2 separate regions of the Homo sapiens genome follow, and region 2 is linked to region 1. The links come from fine-mapping of genetic effects on gene expression. Tissue or cell type: gastroesophageal junction. Region 1 holds a variant in brackets; the other region holds the start of a gene. All regions are shown on one strand. Distances are between the middles of the regions.

Region 1 (8,000 bases):
AAGTAAGAAAAAGGGGCAAGAGGAAAAACAACCTAAAAAGCAGCCTAAGAAGGATGAAGAGGGCCAGAAGGAAGAAGATAAGCCAAGAAAAGAGCCGGATAAAAAAGAGGGGAAGAAAGAAGTTGAATCAAAAAGGAAAAATTTAGCTAAAACAGGGGTTACTTCAACCTCCGATTCTGAAGAAGAAGGAGATGATCAAGAAGGTGAAAAGGTATAAAGTTTACATATATAAAATGGCTGTTCTATTCTTAGTTTATATATATATTTTTTGTTTTTTCTTTGTTTTTTTTTTGTTTTTTTTTTTGTTTTTTTTTTGTTTGAGATGGAGTCTCGCTGTGTTGCTTAGGCTGGAGTGCAGTGGCACAATCTTGGTTCACTGCAACCTCTGCCTCCTGGATTCAAGTAATTCTCCAGCCTTAGCCTCCTGAGTAGCTGGAAGTACAGGCATGTGCCACCACTACCGGCTAATTTTTGTATTTTTAGTGGAGACAAGGTTTTGCAATCTTGGTCAGGCTGGTCTTGAACTCCTGATCTCAGGTGAACCTCCCACCTTGGCCTCCCAAAGTGCCGGGATTACAGGCACCACACCTGGCCATTTATGTATTTCTTAATCTGCCCAGTTTAAGAGCTTTTAATATTTTGGAGGAAGTCTATAAATATCAGTGGCAGTTAAAATGAATTTGTTTACCTTTTTGAATAGACTTGAATTAGCTGTGTTACAAAGCATATTGAAAACGTCCCTTTATTATCTGTTCTCTAAATTCATCTATTTTACAATTATGATCTGGAAATTAAGTAAACAGTACCTTTCCAATAACCCCATCTGTCTAGAAAAGGTAGATGAAATAGGCTGTGGCCAGTGAAGACAAATGTTAAAAGAGGTGGATTTATATAGAGATTTTTGTTATTTACCCCCAAGAAGTTCTTAACACCCTTCAGGCCTATTGTACATTTTATCAGTGGTATGTAAATTTATTTGGACGCCATAGTTGTTGGGAACCTCATTAAAGCTGTGTATCCTTTTGTGTAGAAAAATAAAATTTTGTGTATAGCCTTAGAGATTTACAGATTCAGGTCATGCAAATCTTTTGTTTACTTTCATCTGATTTTTGGCTCATTTCTTAATCTTTTAGAAACCAAACATTTTAAATTGGATAGGTCATGTAGTGTGCTTGTCAGTACTCAAGTCAAATCACTCTGTAGAGAGGCAAACAGACTGACATACTATATTTTATCCAAAGGACATCACTCCTATAGCAGGGCATAAAACAAGATGATTATTTCACGGTCATTAATCAAAGTTAAACTTGCAGAGATAGGTGTAATTCAAAGACTATTTTTAGGTTGCTAATTTGAGTATTCATCCCTTTTTTAAAAACTAGCTGCTGCTTTTCCCCCAAGATTATAATTCCATAAGCACTAGTCACTGACTTTATAGTTAAATAAAACCATCCTAATTCTCAAAACAGAAGAGAAAAGGTGGGAGGAACTTTCAGACTGCTCACAGAAGGAATATGCTGAAAGGCCAACATGAGAAAGAAGCAGCAGATCGAAAACGCAAGCAAGAGGAACAAATGGAAACTGAGCAGTAAGTATTTTTTTTTTTCTAAATTTTGGGTTCTTTTTAAAGGCTAGCATGGAATTTTTAAATAATAGACTTTCATTTTCCAGACTTTATGAAGCCTTTTGAAGAAGTGACTTTTCCCATGTGTTAGAAAAATCTTCAATATATGATGATGATCTTATTTCAGGCTTCATTCTCTTCTGAGAGGATGAAATTGACTGAGGCAGTCACTCTGTGAATTATTTTTGAATTTAAACGAAGTGCAGATAGGATTTAATTGATACTGGCTTTGCAAGAAGTGTACTCATCCTCAACCATTTGTTTGTATAATATAATACATATAGATAGAGGGGCGATAATATACTGGTAGACAAAGAATGCAGGAAATGCCCTTATTCATCACACCACCAAGCAGGCCTCACCCTAAAGACCAGCAAAAGTAACAAAAGCACATTTGGAAACCCAGGAAGCCAGTAAAAGTAAATCTAAAGGCTGACAGGGTGTACATTATTATGTATGTGCAATATAAATCAAATTCAAAGCTGTTTTCTCTTAAATTTTGATACTTATAGAGACAGGACTTGCCATGGGGAATTTCTTTCCCCTTACTATATAATTTTATTACTAGAAGGAAAAGTAATAGCAATGATAATAATGAACAGACTTCGTGTCTTTATTACATTTGCTTTCCTAGTTACCTTTAGACTGTCACTTCTGAGTTCTTTCTCTGACATGCTTTTCTTTTCTCGTGAAGCGTCTTACATTCTGACTAAATTTTGTTTTTTTGTTGTTGTTTTAGTGAGGTGATTTTTAAAACATGCTCTAGGTCAATAAGACAAAGTTAATGATGAGCAGTAAAACAATTCTTGAACAATTTTGTACTTTTTTTCTTTATATAATATATCCGTAAGCCAAAGTCTTTCTTGACAAGTACAGCGTTTTACTCTGCTTTCTTAGTTTGGAGGATATACAAGTAGTTTTAGCTCCTTGAGGGAGTAATTTAAATAACTTATCTAAAGCTCAAAAATATTATTCCCTCTAATGTTAGACTTTAAGCACTTCTGTAAATATTTAAGTTATTCTTTGTCACCTATCATTTTCTATTCTATCTTTTCACTGAAAAGCTGTTGGACTGTTTGTTGCTTTTGACTTTATTGTGATCTCAAAATTAAGATATAAAATTAGTTGTTACTAGTATATGTAGCCCAACCCTTCTTTAGTATCTTAAAGTTATCTTTATGTATTTCAGTTTCTTTTGAATGTCCTCCAATGTAACTTTCTCAAATTCTAATATTTGTGTTTTCTTTCCTTCTCCTGTTATTACAAAACTTTGTACTTGGACAGTTTTGCTCTGTAAAGCATTTCAGATGCAGCTTGTGTGAAATGCATTATGCAAAATAAAGTTTATTGTATTGTATTCCCAGCCAAACAACATGTAATCTACAGTAATAAAAAATATATCTCATTTTGGGCTCAAAGCATTAATCCAGTTACTGAAAAGAGAATACAAGTGGAGCAAACAAGAGATGAAGATCTTGATACAGACTCATTGGACTGAATTTCCCCCTTCCCCCCATTGATGGAAGAATGTTCCAGATTCTAAATTGAGGACTTCATTATTAATGGCATTACTGTGTTATGATTAACAAATTTCCTGTAAGGTACACACTACATACTAAGGTCGGCCATCATTCCTGTTTTTTTTTTTTTTTTTTTTTTTTAACCAAGCTTAAAATGAAGCTTTGTGTTTGAAAGTAATAACAAGCTCAGACGAAGATGGTGGTTGTACATTATTCATCTAGAAAATATAAAAATTCATTTTGTTTTGAAGCTAGTTATTAAACTGGAATAGCAGTTATATCCCTGAGAATGGGGCCCTTCTCTTGACATTCCTTTGTTGTTTAATTCTTTAGAATCTTAATAAATGTTTTTTTAATCCTGAGAGATTAAACAGTAGTAGACTTGTTAAGAATGAAACTGTAACCAAAATTTTAAAATAAAGTTTTTTTTAAAAAAAAAACCTGATTTTTAGATATTTTTTGTTCTTGTCTATTTGAATTGGTTCATAATATGGCCTGAACTCTAAGCCAAGGTACTAGAAATTAAGATTTCAATTTTAAGTGGTTATTTTTGTGATTGACAATAAAATGGTACCTTTTGTGAAATGTTAGTGAATGTTACTGGACGTCATTCAAGTTTGATGAATTGGCCAAAATTTTAAAAACAGTGTTATCTTAAGTCTATTTAACTTTAAAGCTAACTTCAGAACTCATTAATCTGCTTGTTACATGCACAATGATTAAATTGGTCTATTTTAAGATGCAGCTTTAAAAAAGAATGGATGTAGAAGCCATTAAACATTTATAGGTGTCATCTTCCCATTGTGGCCTGTTTGTCCAGTGACCCTGAAATTGCTCTTCTAGCAACACACTATTTGTGATGTCACTGAAAAGCCAGATATGATTTAATCTAGCATGTTAATTAGAGTTTTGCTTATATTTATGCTACGGAACTGCACCATTCTAAGAGCTACAGTCAGTTCCTTTGCAGTCTAGGCTATTGACTTATTTTAAGGAAAACATTTTTAGCTTTTACATAGGGATTGTGGGCATTTAGTCACAAAATTCCAATGTGTTGAAATATTTTTGTTAACATTTGATAGGCAGAATAAAGATGAAGGAAAGAAGCCAGAAGTTAAGAAAGTGGAGAAGAAGCGAGGTTAGTTATTTCACTTTCTAAGATACATAAAATTATACATGGAAAAGAAGTTATATAGACATAACTTTTCATGTATTGGTTTTGGAATAATTTTATACTCATATCCTACAAATAGAATTTTTCAAATCCCTAATGGGCTTTATATAAATTGCATTGTATTTTAAGCATAATCAAGTGAACTTGCTTGAGTTGTTTATGTTTA[A/C]TGCTCATTAATTATTTGATGGTGTCAAATTTTAGTACACTTGCTGAAAGCTGGATGCTTTCCCATTTCAGACAAATCCCTTGGTTAAACATAAGGAAAAGCAGGTGTTTGGGGACTGGAGAGCAGAGGAGTTATCATATGCAGACTATTTATTTTAGGAAAAACGCAGCCAAGTGGTGGTTTTGTGCTTTTACACTGCATGTTGCTTTTCTCAACCACTAAAAATGGCAATAAGTACTTATTCTTAGTTAAGCTATTGTGCATATCTTTGAGCTTCTTAGTAAAGATTACTAAGAACATTTTTTTTTTAAGTCCACTAATTCATTATACTTAGCCTGTATATAGAAATACTGGTTTTGGAAAAACTGTTCACTGTTTTTCACATATTTTAATTTGTAGAAACATCAATGGATTCTCGACTTCAAAGGATACATGCTGAGATTAAAAATTCACTCAAAATTGATAATCTTGTAAGTGTTTAACTTCATTTAATACTTCAGTACTGCATTTATAGCTTCATCTTTTATTTTCTCACATGATCTTATGAGTATGTAAATTTAAGGGATAATTACTGGTCATTTTGCACTACCTCTTTTTTTTTGGAAACGATCTTTAGAAACAGATTGTTTAAGTGTTAAGATAATTAACAGCTATGAAATTACTGTTTTGTCATGAAGGATGTGAACAGATGCATTGAGGCCTTGGATGAACTTGCTTCACTTCAGGTCACAATGCAACAAGCTCAGAAACACACAGAGATGATTACTACACTGAAAAAAGTAAGTGATTTCAAGTCATGTGGATTCTTTGAATTTTGTCATTACTTCATTTAAAAATTGTTTAAAAAATCAATTAGGAAAACAATTATGATGAATGTATATTGTTTTCTCAGATACGGCGATTCAAAGTTAGTCAGGTAATCATGGAAAAGTCTACAATGTTGTATAACAAGTTTAAGAACATGTTCTTGGTTGGTGAAGGAGATTCCGTGATCACCCAAGTGCTGAATAAATCTCTTGCTGAACAAAGACAGCATGAGGAAGCGAATAAAACCAAAGATCAAGGGAAGAAAGGGCCAAACAAAAAGCTAGAGAAGGAACAAACAGGTATGTGGTAAAAAGCCAACAATTTCACACCAGTTTTTAAACCATTTGCCAGGACTGCTTTTAAAAATGGCTTTCATACATAGTTTCACTGTGTATACGCCACAGAAAAAGTATACAAAGGCAAAATGGTGAAAATCTGATGGGCCTATTGAAGGACTAGAGCAGTGTGCATTGAGAACAAAAAATCATGTCAGTTTATATTCGACTTCTAAGGCAGAAACCATTGCTCATGAGGCAGATGACTCTGGATAAACAATTTTTAAAAACCCATCCATCACAATGCCTCCTAATCCCTAGAGTACCCACTTCCTGGTTGCTCAGCTGCTTCTGTTTTCTTCTCACCTAAAAAGTAAAATAGCGTACAGTAGCCTTTTAAATTAAAACACAGCCTCATAGGTGGAGACTACACCTGCCATTACTTGATACAGGTATTCTGATGATGCTGCTGAGTTACCCTGAACAGACTTCACAGTATTAATGCCATGTCCTTTTTTTTTTTTTTTTTTAAAAGATGGAGTTTCGCTCTTGTTGTCCAGGCTGGAGTGCAGTGGCGTGATCTCGGCTCACCACAACCCTCCACCTTCTGGGTTCAAGCGATTCTCCTGCCTCAACCTCCAGAGTAGCTGGGATTACAGGCATACGCCACCACACCTAGCTAATTTTGTATTTTTAGTAGGCACGGGGTTTCTCCATGTTGGTCAGGCTGGTCTTGAACTCCCGACCTATGGTAATCCACCTGCCGTGGCTTCCCAAAGTGCTGGGATTACAGGCATGAGCCACCGCGCCTGGTGATAAAGTCTTACAAAGCACTTAGATGTGTAGCATATATGTAAGGCACTGAACCTTAGCTTCTACTTTTTTCACTAACTTTAGCAGTAGTTAAATCCTGCTAGTACTTATTACTAACAGTAGTTATTTTCTTTTCATTTGTATTAGGAAAAATTTATAACTTATACAAATAGAAATAACTTCTCATGTCCTTGTCATCCAGCTTTGGCAGTTCAGTTTATGATCATTGTGCTTTTGTAGCCCATAAGCTTTCTCTATGCCCCTCTTGAAAGTTGTTTTACGAAAAATCCCTGACATACCATTTCACTCATAAACATTTCAGAATGTATGAAAGACTCTTAAAACAGAATCATAGTACCATTATCAGCTCCTCCAGTCTTGTTATTAAACATCTTAGTGGCAGCTGCTTAAGGTAAAAGCTGGCATTTCAAAAGCAGTCGGTTGGTTTTTTGTTTTTGTTGCTTTATTGGGGAATGACATGGGTCCCCTTAGAGAATTATTAATACGACTTACAGGAAAACCCCCTTTATTAGGCACAAAAATATCAATTAGGAAATACTCCTTTAGCACTTTGTTCTAAAATAGTAAATTTTAAAATTTGATTCACATTGCTTTTCCGTGGTAGAATAAATGAATATGCTAAGAATTACAACACCCTGTAGTATTCCTGGTAATAGTAACAACCAGAATAATCAGATTAATAATCCACTTCCTGTACTCATAGATAGTTAACCTGCTTTTTATGGTGCCTTAGCTACCCAAAGCCTCTGGTGGTCATCTGCTCCCCTTTTTGACAAAGCCATCAAAACCCAATTCTAACATTCAAGAGAGGGCTGTATTACAATGTAATTTCAAATAAAAGACATTAAGTAGTAGAAACACGATGGCCATGTTGTATTTTGATTCTGGATCTTTAGTGGACACCTTCAATTATTGTTTTGTAAGCTTTAACAAAGTTTTTCCATTGGATTCCTTCGCAAGGGTCAAAGACTCTAAATGGAGGATCTGATGCTCAAGATGGTAATCAGCCACAACATAACGGGGAGAGCAATGAAGACAGCAAAGACAACCATGAAGCCAGCACGAAGAAAAAGTGAGGAATAGGTTTTAATGGGTCTTGTGTGTTTTTTATTATTCAGGTTTTTAATCACAGTTCTGTTCCAAGGTTATCTTACTATAATAAGCAGTTATCTTTTGATCACCCAATTCCTGAATTCAGTAAGCAAGTTACAATTCAAAAAGGAAGAAGAGTAAAAACCTTTTATTGACAGTGACTTTGCCACTGAATTCAAGGGAATGGAACTAGCTGGGAACCCAGTTAAAAAGAAAATATTTGCTCCTGGACTACTTTTACTGAGATACTGTTAGTAATGACTTGCATTCACACTTTCTTGAATTGTGAAAGGATAATTGTAAAAAGTTAGATGGAGAATCACAGTTTTGTTGTTGTTGTTTTTTCTTTGAGACAGAGTTTCACTCTTGTTGCTCAGGCTGGAGTGCAATGGCACGATCGTGCTCACTGCAACCTCCACTTCCTGGGTTCAAGCGATTCTCCTGCCTCAGCCTCCCAAGTAGCTGGGATTACAGGCACCTGCCACCACGCCCATCTAATTTTTTGTAT
Region 2 (11,943 bases), 42 kb before region 1:
TACAAATGAAGACTGGAAGATAATTCACAAACATTTTAACAGGGTAATTTGTGGGTATGGAAATTTAAAAAATTCATTGCTACTACTTTGTATTTTCGAAATATTTTGTAATCTGTACATAAACACTGTTTTCTCCAAGCCACCTTAGGTTTCCATATTATTCTAGGTTGATATCTTAACAAATATTTTCTTCACTAAAGGACACATATAAAACATACTTAAGCAGAAATCTTCTACCAACCACTGTGGAGGAGCTAATAAGTTATGAGCTATAATATAAAAAATAAAATAACAATGAGATACCTAATACACATCTAATAGAATGGCCAAGATCCAAAACACAACACCAAATGCTGATGAGGATGTGGAGCAACAGGAACTCTCATTCATTGCTGGTGGGAATATAAAATGGTACAACCACTTTGGGAAACAGTTTGGCAATTTCTTAAAGTGAAACATATTCTTACCATATGAATCAGCAATTACAGAACTTGGTATTTACACAAATAAGTTGAAAACTTATGTTCACACAAAACATGCACATAGTCGTTTATAGCAGTTTTATTCATAATTGCCAAAACTTGGAAGCAACCAAGTTTCCTTCAGTAGGTGAATATTCGAACCAACAAAATATGTCCAGACAATGGAATATGTTTCAGAACTAAAAAGAAATTACCTATCAAGCCATGGAGGAAACTTAAATGCAGATTACGAAGTGAAAGAAGCCTCTGAAAAGGTTACATATTGTATGATTTGGAAAAGGGGAAAGTATGAAGACAGTAAAAAGATAAGTGGTTGCCATGACTTGGGGAATGGACGGATGAATACGCAGGGCAGAAAGGATTTTGAGGGCAGTGAAACTACTCTGTATGATGTTACAGTGGCGGATACATGTCATTATAAATTTGTCCAAACCCATAGAATGCACGAAGCAATAGTGAACCCTAATGTAAACTATGGACATTGGGTAATATGTTAATGTAGTTTCATCAATCGTAAAAAATGTAACACTTTAGTGGGGGATGTTGATAATGATATACGCTATGCATGTGTGGGGGTAGAGGGCATATGGGATACATCTGTATCTTCTCAATTTTGCTGTGAATCTAAAACTGCTCTCAAAAAATAAAATCTTAAAAAAAAACAACAACAAAAAAACCCAAACCAGGCCAGGCACTGTGGCTCGTGCCCATAATCCTACAGTTTTGGGAGGCCGAGGCAGGAGGATTGCTTGAGACCAGGAGTTTGAGATCAGCCTGGGCAACATAGGGAGACCTTGTCTCTACAAAAAATTAAAAAAAAAAAAATAGCTGGGGATAGTGGTATGCGACTGTAGTCCCATCTACTCCACAGGTTGAGAGGGAAGGATCACTTGAGCCTAGGAGTTTGAGGATGCAGTGAGCCGAGATCAGGCCGTTGCACTGCGGCCTGGGCAACAGAGCAAGACCCTGTCTCAAATAATAATAATAATAATAATAATAATAATAATAATAATAATTATAAAAGACCAATCCAAGAAGAAGAAAAAAATCCCCAAACAGCAAAGTCAAACCAGTAATTTGTCATCCAGCAGTCCTTAGAAGTGAAGTTTTCATACAGAACTTTTCCCTCTACATCTAGTTGGATTTTAGACCCAGTCATAGCATAATCCTATACATACATGGAAGACAATTACTTATTTCTCCCCCTAGGTTGTAAACATGGCTAAGATACTAATATCATGCACATTATATATTTATGATCTAATTTAATCCTCACAATAGCCCTCCAAGGCAAGTGTCCTTATTCACATTTCACTGATAAGAAAATAAGTACATGAAGTTAAGAGTTGCCTAATAGCACGTATGGAAAGTGACAGAGCCATGATCAGAACTCATGCTTGACTCCAAAGTCTGTGCTCTCTTTTCTTATGTCATATCAAAGTGGTAACTATTAGTTTTTTCTCTGTAATTGAACATCGAGCACCTGAGTTACTTTTTCTAAATATTAAGATACATTAAATTTGCATTTAAAGTAAAGCCTCTGGTGTCTGTCTGGCTATCAGAGCTCAACCTCACATCCCCTGCTTATCAATAAGCTCATAAGAAAGCACATCGCCAAAATGTTGCATGGTACAATATTTACCATCACTAGTCCTAGGTGACGGTTTTCCAGGAAAAAAGAAAGGGGAGTTCCATTATCAAATAACTTTGGACTGATGGCTAAAAACCCATTTTAGAAATTCATAAAGCAAATTTAATATATTAACAGCTCTGAGATGTCTTACTTTAAAGAAAGCCATGCAACTTTGACTCTGCGTTTCTCAAATTCACTTGTCTATAGAATTTCCTTTTCCCTAATTTAGGCCTTTTAACTTCTCAAGCTATACTACTGTTCTCATAAAACACTCTGAGAAAGCTGACCTAGAAGAATCAATGGTACAAAGACAATAAAAGACATCAGTAGGTTGGTAGGTCTATTGACCAGAGCAAGACATCATTCTACTTTCAAAGCTACACACTTCACACACCAAAATCATGGAGTAAGAACACGGAGGAAAATGAGAAAGAATGTAGACAAAGGAATAAGATGAAGCAGGGAAAAAGGCAAAATCAGGCAGCAGAGTCAAAGAGGAGTATGGCATATACACATGTGGGTAAGAGAACCCTTAACCAAGACTGGAGATGGAGATGTAAGAAAGAAGCAAACCAAGTATCTGAGATGAGAAGTAATCAGGTCATCTAGTGATTTTTTTTAAAAATCCCACTGGACGTTGGGCACAGTGACTCACGCCTGTAATCCTAGCACTCTGGGAGGCCGGGGAGGGCAGATCACCTGAGATCAGGGGTTCGAGACCAGTCTGGCCAACGTGGCAAAACCCTATCTCTCCTAAAACTACAAAAAAAGTAGCCGGGCATGGTGGCACATGCCTGTAATCTCAGCTACTTGGGAAGCTGAGGCAGGAGAATCACTTGAACCCAGGAGGTGGAGGTTGCAGTGAGCCAAGATTGCACCACTGCACTCCAGCCTGGGCAACAGAGTGAGACTCCATCTCAAAAAAAAAAAGAAAAAAAAAAAAGGCCGGGTGCCATGACTCACTCCTGTAATCCTAGCACTTTGGAAGGCCGAGGTGGATGGTCCACTTGAGGTCAGGAGTTCAAAACCAGCCTGGCCAACATAGTGAAACCCTGTCTCTACTAAAAATACAAAAAAAAAAAAAAAAATAGCTAGGTATGGTGGTGGGCACCTGTAATCCCAGCTACTCGGGAGGCTGAGGCAGGATAATTGCCTGAATTCAGGAGGTGGAGGTTGCAGTGGGCCGAGGTTGCGCCACTGCACTCTAGCCTGTGTGACAGAGCGAGACTCCGTCTCAAAAAAAAAAAAAAAAAAAATTCCCACTGGAACGGCCCACAGTCTAGGCAGTCTTCACAAAAGGCACTAATAGTACTCACAGGTCAACTGTCAAACTCTATCTTTGCCTTGCTTCTTTCTAGTCTTTCTAAGGAGCACTCAGATTCCTTAAGACTTCTCTTATCTCATGTGCTGAAAACAACTCTCCTCTAAACATTGGTAAACCAGCTCAGCAGTAAACCTAGCTACCAGCTCATAAGCTAGTACTTCTTGGTTTTTGCCCACCTGGGAGTCAAAGCTTTGAATGCTTATTGATTTTCATGGGAAGCAAGACCTAGATTGGATTTATGACATCCCCAACTAAACTAGCTCTTTGATTAATGCTCTTTATTTTCCCCCATATTCTTGCTAACTTCCCACTATTTCCCCATCATAAGGATTAACATACAACACGAGAAAACAGTTCAATACCTGTTCATACCAATAAATTGAAGGTGCATCACTAACACTGTGTATTAAGGTAGGAAATTATGCAAGAGATACGAAGGAAGAGATTGTTGCTAATTTTTTAGAATAAAGATCTCATTTAGAAAGATTTTCATTAAAATAGTTAAAATGAATGTATTTGTAGTGAATGAAAAATGTCACTGCTCTTAAAGGGTTAACCTTTAAGTACTGTACAAGAAAAATTCATAAAGTCAAAACAAAAACACTTCCATGTGTCATACTTACCTGTATTTTCATCCTAAAGGATTAATGAGTCTGTTGGGGTTTTTCACTTGCCCCTCCCTCTCATTCACTCAATAAATATTTTTGAAAAGGAATTTTTTTTTTGAGAGAGAGTCTCGCTCTGTCACCCTGGCTGGAGTGCAGTGGGGTGATCTTGGAACACTGCAACCTCCTCCTCCCAGGTTCAAGGGATTCTCCTGCCTCAGCCTCCTGAGAAGCTGGGATTAACAGGCGCACACCACCACACCCGGCTAATTTTTGTATTTTTAGTATAGACGGGGTTTCACCATGTTGGCCAGGCTGGTCTTGAACTCCTGACCTCGTGATCCACCTGCCCTGGCCTCCCAGAGTGCTGGGATTACGGGCATGAGCCACCGCGTCCGGCGCTTTTTTATTGAGTACCTGCACTGATGAATAAGATAGTGCCTACTTCTAAGCAGTTTACAGATTAGTAGGAAAGAGTGTAAATAAGAAACTATGTTACTCTAAGATTAGGTCACATCTTTTCCAGAGGTGATTTTTGGGTTGAGTTTTTTAGGACCAGAAGGAGTTAAACAGAATGGTCTCGTGCTGGGGACAAGCTGGGGAATGGCATGGTGTGGAGGGAGGTTGTTAGGAAATTTGAAGCTGGGAATACTTTCAAGCCCAAAGGTGGAAGGTGGAAGAGTAAGTACTGGGCTGCTTTTCCTTCCAGCATCTTTTCTAATTATAAGCCACTCCTCCTTCAGCCTTGCTGCCTCCCTGCCCCACCTAGAGGCGATGTGGGATCACAAAAATGGCATGGGCAAGTAGCCAGAGGGGCTAGAATGTTGCCTCAGCCCCTGGACTAGATGTGTGATCTTGGGCAAGCTAGCTGCTTACCTTCTGTGAGCTTATTTTCTCATCTGTGAAATGGGGATAGTGGCACTTGGGTTAAATGAGATAATGTAGGCCAAGTTCCTGCCTCAACTCATTTGGATTTTCCTGCCCCCTCCCCTTGCTTCAGTTGTTTTGGAAATTACACTCTTTCTCCTTATAACTTTCCCATTGCTCCTCTGATCTCCATTTTGGTATACTTTTTCAAGTATCCCCACTAAGAAGGCTGACTATGGGAGAGGGCTGCACCAAGCATAGCTGGAAAAGAGCACAGAAAAGCTCTCCCAAGTGGCTAGGATGTGCCCAGCTTTCCTTCCCCGTTCCCTGCCCTCCCCTCCCCTCCCCTCCCCCCCCCTTTCCTCGCAGATTCAGAACTGTTGCTCCCAGGGATCCTGGGCTTTTGTTCTCTGGAAGCTTAAACCACCACCTGTTTTGCCTTTATTGTTTAAAGGGTATCTCCTGTTGTTCACAAACTACCACAGGTTGAAGCGGACAAAACTTAAAGGCAGCAGGAGCTAAGTATGGTACTTCCTTTTTTTAAAACAACAAAAACAACAGAAAATACTAATAGTAAAACATCAATGCTTTTCCATTTTCCCTTTTTTATTTCTTTTCTGAGGTCCCCTCTAACACTAACTACCCCCTCTTTACCTGTTAATCCTACCATTAGTACTAATAAAAAGTTATCTTTAACGTTAATTATAACTTGTTATATATCTGTTTTTCTTAGTTTGAAGTTTTTACAGTCTGAGGTATCCTCTAAAGCAGTTTCTCAAACTTGAATATGCGTAAGAATCACCTAGGGATCCTGTTAAAACGCAGATTATGATTTAGAAGGCCTGGGGAAGGTCTGAGCTTTACCTGAGCTCCCAGGTAAAGCCCTTGCTGCTGGGCCTTGGACCACACTTGAAGTAGCAAGGCCTTACAGGGTTTAGAACAAATAAAGTGCATACACACAAAAAAATGATTGCTGGATGCTGCTTTGGTCTCTCTTACTCTGTATCTTGAGCTTTTCTTCAATACATCTTTTTCCACCTTTTCCTATGCATAATTTATAGCCAACACCTGACAATCATTCCTTTGTGTAATTACTTAGTTGTGCTCTTCCTTCCCTTTTCTTAGTCACCATTCTCACTGAGAAATGCGTCATTTCATGAGTACTCCAGTTACCCCCAGCCTCTTTCTACTAACATCTACCTTGAAACATCAAGAACTGGTTAAATAATCATTTTTACCCCCTTCTTGCTGAGCAACCTATAGTAGCTTCCTACTACACACATTAAATTCATATTCAGAATGAGAAGCTTCAAGACATTTCACCAACCCTTCCTTCTCCTCTGCCAATTTCTCTTTTTGCTCCACTTGGAACTCTCTGCATATTGCCCAGGTATACTTAGTTTCTCGAAACTCCTTACAGGACATTTTACTTTGGGACTGTCTTCTTTCATTCCTTTTTAAAGACATGCTGTATCGCTTTCAAAAAATTCTCAATTTTTACCAATTCAAAAAAAATTTCCTAATTCATTTCCAGTTGAGTCCCGTATTTAAAACAGTATTATCTAGGTGCTAATATATGTCTTATTATTCTTATTTTTATATGTCTTAACATTCTTTTTAAAAATATTTTCAGCCTCTCTAAAGGATCAAAAAATTAACCTTTAAAATCCCTTGAAGAGCATTTTAAGAGAGAAAATATTTGAGGTTTAGTAACACTTACACATTGTACCACCTACCAGCTCCTATTCTACTAGGGAAATAAAATTTAGATGCAGCTAAAATTTAGTTAGGGCCCAAACTCACATCCTATCTAAAAGGTTTCTGTTTTCCTGTCATTGTTTTCTACCCTTCGCATTTTGCATTCAGTAGGGTTGCATTTTTCTTAATAGTTCTTGGTGATGCAAATGCAAAAGAAATGAAATAGGGCTCTCTCATACTACAATTTCAAGGAAAAGGAGACTACGAGGCCCATTCAGCGAGGTGCAAGAGGCCTAGATGCAGCACACCCTGCAACCGCCGCATGCTCCAATTTCATCTTAGGGTTTTCGTACAGCTCCTCTTTTTTGGATGATGCAAACCGCGCAAAAGCAGCATTCAAACCTCCCCACCCTGGAAACGATACAAGAACATGAATCTTTACTGCCACTTTCTCCCTAACACGCAGCCAAGGGAGAGAGGCCCGGATACCCGCCCCCAAAACCGCGTCCACAACAATCATTTCCTCCCTCCCCGCCTTTTACATACAGTACACATACAAATACACACACGCAGAGAAGCCAGCAGGGGCGGGCCGGGCCCGACCACTCCGCAAACCGCAGGGGGAACTTGCGGCAGGCCGAGCTATTTTCGCCCAGTCCTTTCTTCTTCGCTTGCGTCTTCCTCTCCATCTGCATGCACCTGTTACATGAAAGCGAACTTGGGGACGTAGGGTTTCCAGAAAATCCGCTTCGGAGCCACACAGCTTCGCCGGGTGCTGCAACATCCCCCCTCTCTCGGTAAACAGTTGGTCGCGCCCCAGTGCTAGCGGGCGCCGAGCGGGAGCCGCGCGGGAGCAGCGCAGCTACGGCGGCGGCAGCGGCGGCGCGGTTGCGATTCCGAGCCGTTGAGACGCCTCTGCGGCAGCTGGTGGCGCAGGTGGCTTGCGTGGACGCGGGTAGAGGCGACCGGCCAGCAACCGCAGCGTCGGCGCCCGCGGCCCCGGCAGGTGAGCGGGCGACGGGGACTCGCCCCGCCCCCCCCTCGGTGGCGTCGCTCCTGGCTGTAGCGGGGAAGTGGACGCGGCCCGCCCGGGAGCCGAGGGGGCCGAGGCTGCAGCCGCTGGGCAGCAGGTTGCGGGGGAGGCCTTGCGTGGGCGGAAGGGGGCCGCTCGCTTCTCGGAATCCCTGCCTTTTTCTCTCCCATGCACCCCCTCCCTTTTGGGGCTTAAGCTCGGTGGAAAAAGCCCGGAGAAAGATGGGGCGGGCAGACGGGCGATTTCTGGCCGGGCAGCATCCCTGCTTCAGGTGGTGGCGTCTCTTCGGTGGCGGGGTGGAGGACCTGCTCCAGCGCGGAGGCAGCGCACTGGCGGGGGAGGAGCGGGAGGCGGCCGTCCCCTCGCTCTCCCACCCCCACCCGCCGGTTCCCCTCCCCCTCCCCTTGCGGCCCCTCCCTTCGGGGTTCTTCGCTTTAACCGCCCTCGGTGCTCTCCCTAGCAGGCGCGTCGGGACGCCCCGAGGCATCCTCCCCCGCCCGCGGGCCCGGTAGCTGGGCCCGCGTCCGCCGCCCGCATCCCCGCGCCGCCGCATCTCCTCGCCGCCTCCCGGGCTTCGGACCCCCGGTCTCGCCCCCGAAACATGACTCGCGATTTCAAACCTGGAGACCTCATCTTCGCCAAGATGAAAGGTTATCCCCATTGGCCAGCTCGAGTAAGTGATTTGTAGCCCTCGCGCTTAGCAGTGCTACCCTCCTCTCCAGAGGCCTGCTGCCCACCGTGTCTCTTTATTTTTTCTTCTGTCCTTTCTCTCCCTCGCTTTAGTCTCATTTGTAACCTGACCTTTCATTTTAGTTTTTTGCCCAATAATCTCCCGTGTAATTATGAAAATCCAGACGTTTCTACATACCTGTGTATTTCCCTATGGTTTATTGGCAGACTTGGACAGATTTTCTTCCTAGGAAATATTTAAATGCGTTGCTAGTTAATATTCCATTGTAGGTGAAATAATGAAGAGTGAATTTTTGTTTAAAAATTAGTGAAACATTGACATTTCCATAGTTTTGGATCAAGTACAAAATATCAATGGAATTTGTGCAGATTACACACAAACACTTGGATGTCAGAGAAGTGCGTATGTGATTAAATTGGATTTACAGGGTTTTAAAAAAAATACCTTGTACTTGATGAGGCCTTCTGGATTTGCTTGTTTAATACAGATTCAGGACTGGATATTCTTGAAAGTATTACAGTAGTTTAGTACCGAGGAAGGGCCAGAAAATTCATTTCTCCTTTTTTATTTGAGATGTTTATGACCTTGAAGAAGTTGTTTTACCTTTTTGTTTCCAATAGGCAAAAAGGAGGTGTGGACCAGATTCCTCAGTTCACATCTAGTGGTACAGAGAAATGATTAAGGACCCAGGATGTTTTGTGACATTGAGGAATTGAGACTGTTTAAAGATCTACGCTCCATTTTTAGAAAAAGGGTTCTTTTTGTTTATGGTGGTACCCAGGCTCTCAAACAGAGATAGATAGGACCTAAGATATGTTGCAATCAATTAGATTAGGTAAACTCAAGATCCTTTAAAAATATACTTACATGGGGTTCTGAAGTTTTATTTTTCCAAGCCATTTATTTTCGACTAATTTACTGTCCTTTGAAAATGTATTTCTTAAAAATAATTAAATTCTGTAGTTTTAGTTATGTCAGCAGGGGAATGGTGGAAAACACCCATTAGATAACGGAGTCCTGTCTAGGAGCTGAGAGTGCCATCCAAGTGTAAAACGATCACTGTTCCTTGACTTTCTTCCATCTAGCTGCTCTACGTAAACTCCTGTTCACAAGTTTCCTTCCAAAGCTTTTTTCCTTGCCTATAAAGTCTGCCTTTTCGGTGCAGTCTTACTTGAACAATCCTTAGTCATAATCCTTGTCTGTATATTTTACATTCTAATCTATTCCTTTCGTGATAATCTTTTGTTTTAATTCTTAACTCTGTGTATGCTTTGACCTCCAAATATATTGTGAGACCGAGGGCAACAACCTTAAATGGAATTTGTTTATACCCTCCATAGTCCGTAGTATATATGATGCACCTATAAAACACAATTCACGTTCAAATGGAGCCTAGGGAAACTGATCAGGTTTAAGGCCCCTCTGATATACTTTTTCATGGTCTTCGAGGTATCCTTGTTTATTTTGAGGTGTTTGAAAATATGAGGTTGTCTAATAGATCTATATTCCGATTTGCATGCCACAGTGAAGTTAAAAGCCAAAGGAAATGTTTAAAAAATCTCCCAAATCACCCTCCCCACGCTCATATGTTAAGTGACTAAGAGTGCTACTGAAAATAAAATAGGGTAGCCTTTGGAAGACCAGAGTGTTTTCCTTATTTAACAAGTTCTACATTTAACAAGTTCATTTGGATTGGAAGGGAAGTGTTTGTCTTTTCCCTTTTCCCCATCATTTTTTCTGAGAAACACCTCCATTTAGTGTTGGTGTATTCTGTGTCCAACAGTTACATTCCTTTTTCTGTCTTCTTCATTCTTAAAAATTTGAAATCTTTGCTGTAGAGTTTAGAGTCCATATTTAAAGTCTGAGCCGTAAAGGTGACACCTCTTGTTGCAATTTTTGCTTTAACATTTCTGTCTACATGTCCCAAACTTCATTAATTTTTAAGTCTTAAACATTCATGTACATAATCGTTTACCAGTAATAATTATTTAAAAAATCAACTTAAATTTTGCCCGGCATTTGCTAAAGGCTATAGGTGCTAGGTATTTGCATAAACTCTTTAAGCTGTTTGCTAGCAGAAAGAGGCATATGAACTGGGTTAACAGAAATGATCTCTTAAGGGATTAAGGATTTTTGCAATTATCGGGACATTCCCACAAAGTTGAGATAACAGGTGTGATCTTCATCATATAAGTGGGGAAATAGGTCCCTAGAGATATTGGGTGGTAATGATTCTGTTGGTGTGTGAAAGCCTTTAGACTTCCCTCACAAATCAGTTCAGTCATCCTGATGGTCTTCTTCTGCAACACCATAATGCTTACAGAGGATAGTAGGTCCTCTGATGGTCAACCCCCTTCTTAACAAAGTCAGCTGATTTTCAAATTGAAGTGTTTTTGAAATTATGAAAATTATGACATTTAAAATAGATATGTTGTTAAATTCTTTTTTTTTGTTTTTTTTAAAGACAGGATCTCACTCTGTCACCCAGGCTTGAGTGCAGTGGCATGATCTCGGCTCACTGCAACCTCTGTTGCCCAGGTTCAAGTGATTCGCCTCTGGAGTGGCTGAGATTACAGGCACCTGACACCGTGCCCTGCTAATTTTTGTATTTTTAGTAGAGACCGGGTTTCACCATATTGGTCAGGCTGGTCTTGAACTCCTGACCTCATGATCCATCCACCTTGCCCTCCCAGAGTGCTGGGATTACAGGTGTGAGCCACCGCGCCTGGCCGACATGTTGTTAAATTCTAGCTAGATAGTACTGCTTTAGTCCTGAGGTCTGCTTTTCCTTTATTGATGAGGGAAAGTAACAAGTATTATGGATATATTAGACGTGACAGCACCTGATGATTTCTTCCTTACATAATTTAAAAGGTTGAAAGAGCAGTGAAAAAGGAACAGGTAGCCTCATGTGATTCAGGCACATCAGTGAAGGATCTTTTCATAGTAAGTTTTTCAGACTTTGGGAGGTACTGATTTAAACTTTTGTCAATGTCTGCTTTTACATTAGTCTGTTATTTGTATAGATTTCCTGCAGAACTAACATTTAGGGTTGTCAAATAGGTTCAGACTCCTTACCTGAAATGATATGATTAACAATTCAGAATTCTGGGATTTTAGGAAGGCAGGGAGAGTACATATGCCATATATTTTGCTGCTGGTGCGGTCTGGAATAGCACATAATAATATGTCTGCAAAGAAACAACAGTGGAAACAGGTGGATAAAAGAAATGACTGATACCCTCAATGTCAGTCCAGGTTTTGCCACCAAATGAGTTTTGACAGAAATTTTGGTTTTCAGAGCTTCTTGGGTTTCAGATTTGGGGATAGGAGATTATGGGCCTGCAGAACTGGCCCATTTTATAACAGAACCCTTTTGGATGTTGTGCTCTTGTTTATTCAGATAAATGTTGAGGTGTGTATGATTTAAAATATTTTAATTTTTCTCACTTTTCTTTTAGGTAGACGAAGTTCCTGATGGAGCTGTAAAGCCACCCACAAACAAACTACCCATTTTCTTTTTTGGAACTCATGAGACGTAAGTCCTGTTAGCTTTAAAGGCAAATCAGAGCTAATTTAACAGGGTTATTAGGCAGTAGACATTAATTCA

Evidence for each region. PIP is the estimated chance that this variant, and not a neighbour inherited with it, causes the effect. A credible set is the group of variants that fine-mapping cannot tell apart.
Region 2: PSIP1 starts here. The variant in region 1 is the best candidate, but not a certain one, in a credible set for the expression of PSIP1 in gastroesophageal junction (GTEx, PIP 0.85).

What each region holds. Positions count from the first base shown.
Region 1 is chr9:15,466,220-15,474,219 of GRCh38, reverse strand. It overlaps PSIP1 (PC4 and SRSF1 interacting protein 1), which reads left to right. Exons shown (of 16, transcript NM_033222.5): 9 at 1-211; 10 at 1,470-1,588; 11 at 4,227-4,282; 12 at 4,884-4,954; 13 at 5,162-5,263; 14 at 5,377-5,590; 15 at 7,361-7,472. It also overlaps a transcript of SNAPC3 not described here. Among named protein-coding and RNA genes, the nearest start is that of PSIP1, 41 kb to the left of the region's middle. The variant A/C (reference allele first, on the strand shown) is at 4,485.
Region 2 is chr9:15,506,489-15,518,431 of GRCh38, reverse strand. PSIP1 (PC4 and SRSF1 interacting protein 1) reads left to right here and starts at 7,462. Exons shown (of 16, transcript NM_033222.5): 1 at 7,462-7,615; 2 at 8,103-8,315; 3 at 11,795-11,871. The coding sequence starts at 8,244. RefSeq lists enhancers at 5,172-5,790, 6,443-7,395, 7,396-8,349 and silencers at 7,477-7,556, 7,577-7,786, 7,797-7,856, 7,987-8,036, 8,137-8,336.